Homo sapiens: one gene and its partner. The protein of the gene in region 1 interacts with the protein of each later gene in a biochemical or structural test. Each region holds a gene or a part of one and is shown in the gene's direction. Other genes may lie near its edges.

What was found. The genes of interacting proteins can lie anywhere in the genome.
Region 2: the proteins of UBE2D3 (region 1) and RBX1 form a complex in vitro, tested with the Homo sapiens proteins (72 studies listed by BioGRID, with this or other methods).

The regions. Positions count from the first base shown.
Region 1 is NC_000004.12:102,793,821-102,796,641, reverse strand, and holds the end of UBE2D3 (ubiquitin-conjugating enzyme E2 D3), read left to right. Parts: 3' UTR 1-2,259; downstream 2,260-2,821. UniProt on the Homo sapiens protein: Accepts ubiquitin from the E1 complex and catalyzes its covalent attachment to other proteins. In vitro catalyzes 'Lys-11'-, as well as 'Lys-48'-linked polyubiquitination.
Region 2 is NC_000022.11:40,961,378-40,965,129, forward strand, and holds part of RBX1 (E3 ubiquitin-protein ligase RBX1), read left to right. Parts: intron 1-2,669; coding exon 2,670-2,740; intron 2,741-3,752. UniProt on the Homo sapiens protein: E3 ubiquitin ligase component of multiple cullin-RING-based E3 ubiquitin-protein ligase (CRLs) complexes which mediate the ubiquitination and subsequent proteasomal degradation of target proteins, including proteins involved in cell cycle progression, signal transduction, transcription and transcription-coupled nucleotide excision repair.

The DNA.
Region 1 (2,821 bases):
TAGCTCTGCTAGTAATTGATTTATTTTTCTTCAATAAAGTTGCATAAACCAATGAGTTAGCTGCCTGGATTAATCAGTATGGGAAACAATCTTTTGTAAATGCAAAGCTGTTTTTTGTATATACTGTTGGGATTTGCTTCATTGTTTGACATCAAATGATGATGTAAAGTTCGAAAGAGTGAATATTTTGCCATGTTCAGTTAAAGTGCACAGTCTGTTACAGGTTGACACATTGCTTGACCTGATTTATGCAGAATTAATAAGCTATTTGGATAGTGTAGCTTTAATGTGCTGCACATGATACTGGCAGCCCTAGAGTTCATAGATGGACTTTTGGGACCCAGCAGTTTTGAAATGTGTTTATGGAGTTTAAGAAATTTATTTTCCAGGTGCAGCCCCTGTCTAACTGAAATTTCTCTTCACCTTGTACACTTGACAGCTGAAAAAAAACAACATGGGAGTAATAATGGGTCAAAATTTGCAAAATAAAGTACTGTTTTGGTGTGGGAGTTGTCATGAGGCTGTGTTGAAGTGACTTATCTATGTGGGATATTGAGTATCCATTGAAATGGATTTGTTCAGCCATTTACATTAATGAGCATTTAAATGCAACAGATATCATTTCAGGTGACTTAACATGAATGAATAAAAGTCAATGCTATTGGATTGTTTTTTGTTTGACAAGTGCTATCTGTGCCACTGATTTAACTTCTGTAGTAACAAGGGCATTACCATTCTTCACCTTTCCTAATTCTGATCCCATAGTTTTACATTTTTCCTGTTTATTTTGATTTTGTTCACTGCTTTATTTCTTAAAGTTCTAGCACATCTGTGACTCCTCCACTTCCACATTTTTGCACTGCTTACACTTACGTGCAATCTTATTCCTTGTCTGCACACACATGTGGAAAGCTAGAAATAAATGTTAAAACTTACTTTTTATAAACATTTTAATATGTAGTTTGGACATGATTTATTGACTTAAGGTTCTTCTCTAAACTGGAAGTGAAATGCATGCCTTCTGAAGATGTTCTGGCTTTGTTAATTCTGTAATCATTTCATTGGGGAAAAAACCAGCTACGCAGTTTTTCCAATGAGTGAATTTTTTCATTTTGTGTTTTGCTTAAAACGGCTCCTTCAGGGTAGATGTCATACTGCATAACTTTTTTGGATTCAAATTATGAATGAGAAATTAGTTAACATTCTGCTCCACAAGGTAAGAAAAACTGCTCTTTGGCTCTATTTTCAAAATTACTTCTGAGATGCATATAGTCTCAAAATAACAGCTTTAGTAGGCATATCACTTCTTGAAAGCCAAACATGAGTGTAAGACACTTTTATGAAACACGGTGGATCCCTAACTGGCTTTCAAATTGACCTTTATAGCCTTAGACAACCCTTAGGTATTTACGGAGATGACTTCTTTGATTGTCATAACAATTAGTGGATGTGTCCAGTTCTCTGTATCTTTGACTTGATGCTTTATACATCATTTCATTTGTTGCTTCTAAGGGAATAAGCCATAGAGGCTTCTCCAGGTTTAAAAGAACAGTAAAGTACCTGGAAAACCAACATTTTTGAATGTATGGACACTGGACATGAGATATGTACAATGAAATCTTAAAAGAATCTAAGAATTTGCCCTCTTTGCCCCACTCCACCCAGTAATTTGACATTACTAGTGCCATGTATAGGACCCAACTGAGTATTAGAATCAGTTTTGACTATGTCTTTGTATTTCCTAAATCTTTTAATGCATAAACCGAATTAGGGTCCAGTTGGCCTGTTAATGGTAAATTTACATTTTAAATGACTCAGTTTGTTTTTCCTGGGCGAGTTTGCAATGTGATAATCAGATTTTTTAAAACTGATTAATTTGCTTTCTTGTGTGGGTGTACTCACATTTTAAAGTATGAACCACAGTTAACTAGTGGTCTCAGGGGTAGTGAAACACTCACTTTTTTTTTTGTTTGTTTTTTTTTGTTTGTTGAAATGGCTTAGTTGAAGTATACTTAAGGTACTGATCATGCTGTGTTAGTAATTTGGGCGGGGAGGGGGGTAACTCAGCCATGTTTTGTGTTGGCATAACAAAACTGTTAATGATTGTTGATTACACTTTTAAGTGAATTTGTCTTTTATGAGGAACCCAGTGCAAGTCACTAAATATTGTCTAATAGTGACATCTGCATAAGACTTGTAATAGCTGAAGTTAATTGAGCTTAAAGGAATTGTTACCATTAAAGTCTGTGTTTAAAGACACTTTGGTCTTACTCGGTAATTCCAGCTAACATGAAATCCACACTTGAGCTTAATGTGTGTGAGCTCGATTTTTAATTTTATACAGTTTATGAATAAGGTGGTTCTCAAAATGTTTCTTGAGATAACAATCTCAGCATCATTTAGGAAATTCTTTGTAATATAAGTTGTCAGGCCCCATCCCAGTCCTGAGTCAAACTGGCATGGAGCCCAGTCACCTATATTAAAACACCCTCCAAGTGATTCTGATGAATAGTGAAGATTGAGAACCGTTTTCAGAAGTCTGTTCGTAGCATTCCCTTGTAACAGACTACAACCAGTAATCCTTTGACTCTACAGCTATTTTTTTATAGCTGTTTTTGGCTTTAGAGAATGTGTTTAAGTATTACGTTTCTGATACCTGACAATTTCCTAGTACTTTGAATTGTAATACAGTACATTGATTTCCACATTTACACTTGGAATATTAAAATACATTAACGTCCTACAGTTGGCTAATTTGAATAACCATACTGGCATGGAATTCAACCAATCGTCAAGTATTTAAAAGTAATCAGGTGCAAAG
Region 2 (3,752 bases), on another chromosome or scaffold:
CCTGACCCAATTCTTTATTTTTATTTTATTTTATTATTTTTATTTTTATTTTTTGAGACAGAGTCTCGCTCTGTTACCCAGGCTGGAGCGCAGTGGTGCGATCTTGGCTCACTGCAAGCTCCGCCTCCCGGGTTCACACCATTCTCCTGCCTCAGCCTCCTGAGTAGCTGGGACTACAGGTGCCCGCCACCACGCCTGGCTAATTTTTAAATATTTTTAGTAGAAACCATGTTAGCCAGGATGGGCTCGATCTCCTGACCTCGTGACCCACCCGCCTCAGCCTCCCAAAACGCTGGGATTATAGGCGTGAGCCACCGGGCCTGGCCCCAATTCTTTATTTTTATCAGTTGGCAAACCAAGTTACTCTGTAGTGTGAATCTGGCTAGCAAAAGTAAGTGCTTTGCTTTCTCTGTGTGTGTGTGTGTGTGTGTCAGCCTTACTCTGTCACCCAGGCTGGAATGCAGTGGTGTGATCTCGGCTCACTGCAGCCTCTGCCTCCTGGGTTCAAGTGATTCTCCTGCCTCAGCCTCCTGAGTAGCTGGGATTACAGATATCCACCACCATGCCTGGCTAATTTTTGCCTTCTTAGTAGAGAGGGGGTTTTGCCATGTTTGCCAGGCTGGTCTCGAACCCTGACATCAAGTGATCCGTCACCCTCGTCCTTCCAAAGCATTGGGATTGCAGGCGTGAGCCACTACTCCCAGCCTTTTATGGTTTGTTTGTTTGTTTGTTTGTTTTTTGAGACAGAGTCTTGCTCTTTTGCCCAGGCTGGAGTACAGTGGTGTGCAACTTCGGCTCACTGCAACCTCTGCCCCTTGGGTTCAAGCAATTCTCCTACCTCAGCCTCCCAAGTAACTGGGATTGCAGACATGTACCACCATGCACCACTAACTTTTGTATTTTTAGTAGAGATTGGGTTTTGCCGTGTTGGTCAGGCTGGTCTCGAATTCCTGACTTCAGCCTCTCATAGTGCTGGCATTACAGGTGTGAGCCAACATGCCCGGCCCACTTTCCACATTTTCGAAGAGTGAAAAGAAAAAGGTATTATCATGGTATCTCTTCCCCTAAAACCACACATGCCCATTAACATCTAGTTTTGTTTTTTTTAATAGTTTTACTTTTTTTTTTTTTTTTTTGAGACAGAGTCTCACTGTGTCACCCAGGCTGGAGTGCAGTGGCGCAGTCTTGGCTCACTGCAACCTCTGCCTCCCGGATTCAAGCAATTCTTCTGCCTCAGCCTCCTGAATAGCTGGGACTACAGGCGCCCACCACCACACACACCTGGCTAATTTTTATTTATTTTTTTATTTTTATTTTTATTTATTTATTTTTTGAGACGGAGTCTTGCACTGTCGCCCAGGCTCCAGTGCAGTGATGCAATCTTGGCTCACTGCAAGCTCCGCCTCCTGGGTTCAAGCAATTCTCCTGCCTCAGCCTCCTGAGTAGCTGGGACTACAGGCACCCGCCACCACGCCCAGCTAATTTTTTTTTTTTTTTTTTAGTAGAGACGGTGTTTCACTATGTTGGCCAGGATGGTCTCAAAGTCCTGACCTCATGATGTGCCTGCCTCGGCCTCCCAAAGTGCTGAGATTACAGGAGTGAGCCATCGCGCCTGGCCTACTCCTGGCTAGTTTTTCATATTTTTAGTAGAGACAGGTTTCACCATGTTGGGTGGGCTAGTCTTGAACTCCTGACCTCGTGATCCGCCTGCCTCAGCCTCCCAAAGTGCTGGGATTACAGGTGTGAGCCACCACGCCCAGCCATAGTTTTACTATTTTTCACCTGTAGTAGTTTGAAGTAATTCTCCCCTATTAAATAGTTTCTCCTGAAGCTTTTTATTCTTCAGAAGGGAGACTCCATTTAGTTACTATGATCAGAGAAAGCAAGTTATGCATTAGTAATTCTTGTTCTGTGAATATTTATCCCCAGTTGTGCTTTACCCATCAGATCTTGATCTCAGTCAAGAACTCATTGCAGGCCAGGTGCGGTGGCTCATGCCTGTAATCCCAGCACTTTGGGAGGCTGAGGTGGGCGGATCACCTGAGGTCAGGAGTTTGAGACCAGCCTGGCCAACACGGAGAAACCCCATCTCTACTAAAAATACAAAATTAGCCAGGCATGGTGGTGTGCGCCTGTTAATTCCAGCTACTTGGGAGTCTGAGACACGAGAATCGCTTGAACTCGGGGGGCGGAGGTTGCAGTGAGCCAAGATTGTGCTATTGCACTTCAGCCTGGGCAACAAGAGGGAAACTCCATCTCAAAAGGAAAAAAACTCAGTCTAGGCAACATGGTGAAACTCCATCTCTACAAAAAATACAAACAATTAGCTGGTGTGGTGGCACGCACCTGTAGTCCCAGCTACTCAGGAGGCTGAGGGAGAATCACCTAAGCCCAGGAAGTCAAGGCTGCAGTGAGCCATGCTCATGCCACTGCACTGTAGCCTGGGCAACGGGAGTGAGATGTGCATTTCCCATTTGTTACTCTTTTTAAACAAGGATAGGAAATCGTCAGAAAGCATACTGTTATCTCTGTCTTCTCTGTTCTTCCTTTCCCACATTCATTAAAAAACAATTATGGCTAATTAACCACTTGAGAATTGTTTTGGCTGCTATAGATTGAAACGTTGCTGCTCCCAAGGTCCAGTGATCCTGTTGCTCTTGTTCCCACAGGCATAGAATGTCAAGCTAACCAGGCGTCCGCTACTTCAGAAGAGTGTACTGTCGCATGGGGAGTCTGTAACGTAAGGAAGCATCTTTACCTGTCAGCATGGCTTGTAAACATATTTCCACTTTTCCTGCTTTGCTAGTCTTGAAAATAACTAGGGAAAAAAATGACTAGTCCACCTTTCTCCCAAAAGGTATACAAATAGTAAAAAAGATTTTAAATCATAATACTATTCACCTGTTACAGGGTAAAAATTACAGTTACTGCAAAGAGGCACTTATTTGTCTTAATTATAAAGTGGACCCAATTTTGTTAGCAGTATTTTGGGGCTTCATCTATGGGAATTGCCTTCAAAACCTACATGCACCCTTTGGAATATTCTCGTGGTAGAACTTTGTACCTTTGAAACAGGCTTTTTTAAAGACCAGGTGTCTAATGGAACTAAGTTTGATGAGTAAATTGAGTGTTGAAGTCTCTGTGTATGTGTGTTTTAAGTGTGGCGTATGTACTGAGATAAGATTATTTTTTAACATGGCTTATGCCAGAAATGTTTTGTGTAGCTTTATTGGACTGAATGGCCTTCCAAGAGTGTGACAGCTGTGAAGGATAACAAATATCAAATATGTTAGTTCTAGCATGTGTTAAAAATTCATTCTTTAAGCTGTAAAGTCCCAGTCACATGAGCTAAAATTGTCTTGTCAGGGCCTCCTGTGTCATGGGGACAGAATACTCACAGTTCCCAGCATGACACAGGGATAAGAGATTCTAGAGTCAGACCACCATTCCCTGTCTTTGTGACTTACTTGCTAAGTGACGTTAGGCAAGGCATTTAACGTCTCCAATCCTGGGTTCCCTCATAAAATGGGGCTGATAGTGGACCACATAAAATTGTAATCCGGATTAGATGATTTATGTTAAAATGTGATTAAACAACTCCCGGCACATAGTAAGCACAAGTGCTTGTTAAAAAAAATCTAAATAGGCCGGACGCGGTGGCTCACGCCTGTAATCCCAGCACTCTGGGAGGCCGAGGCGGGTGCATCATGAGGTCAGCAGATGGAGACATCCTGGCTAACACAGTGAAACCC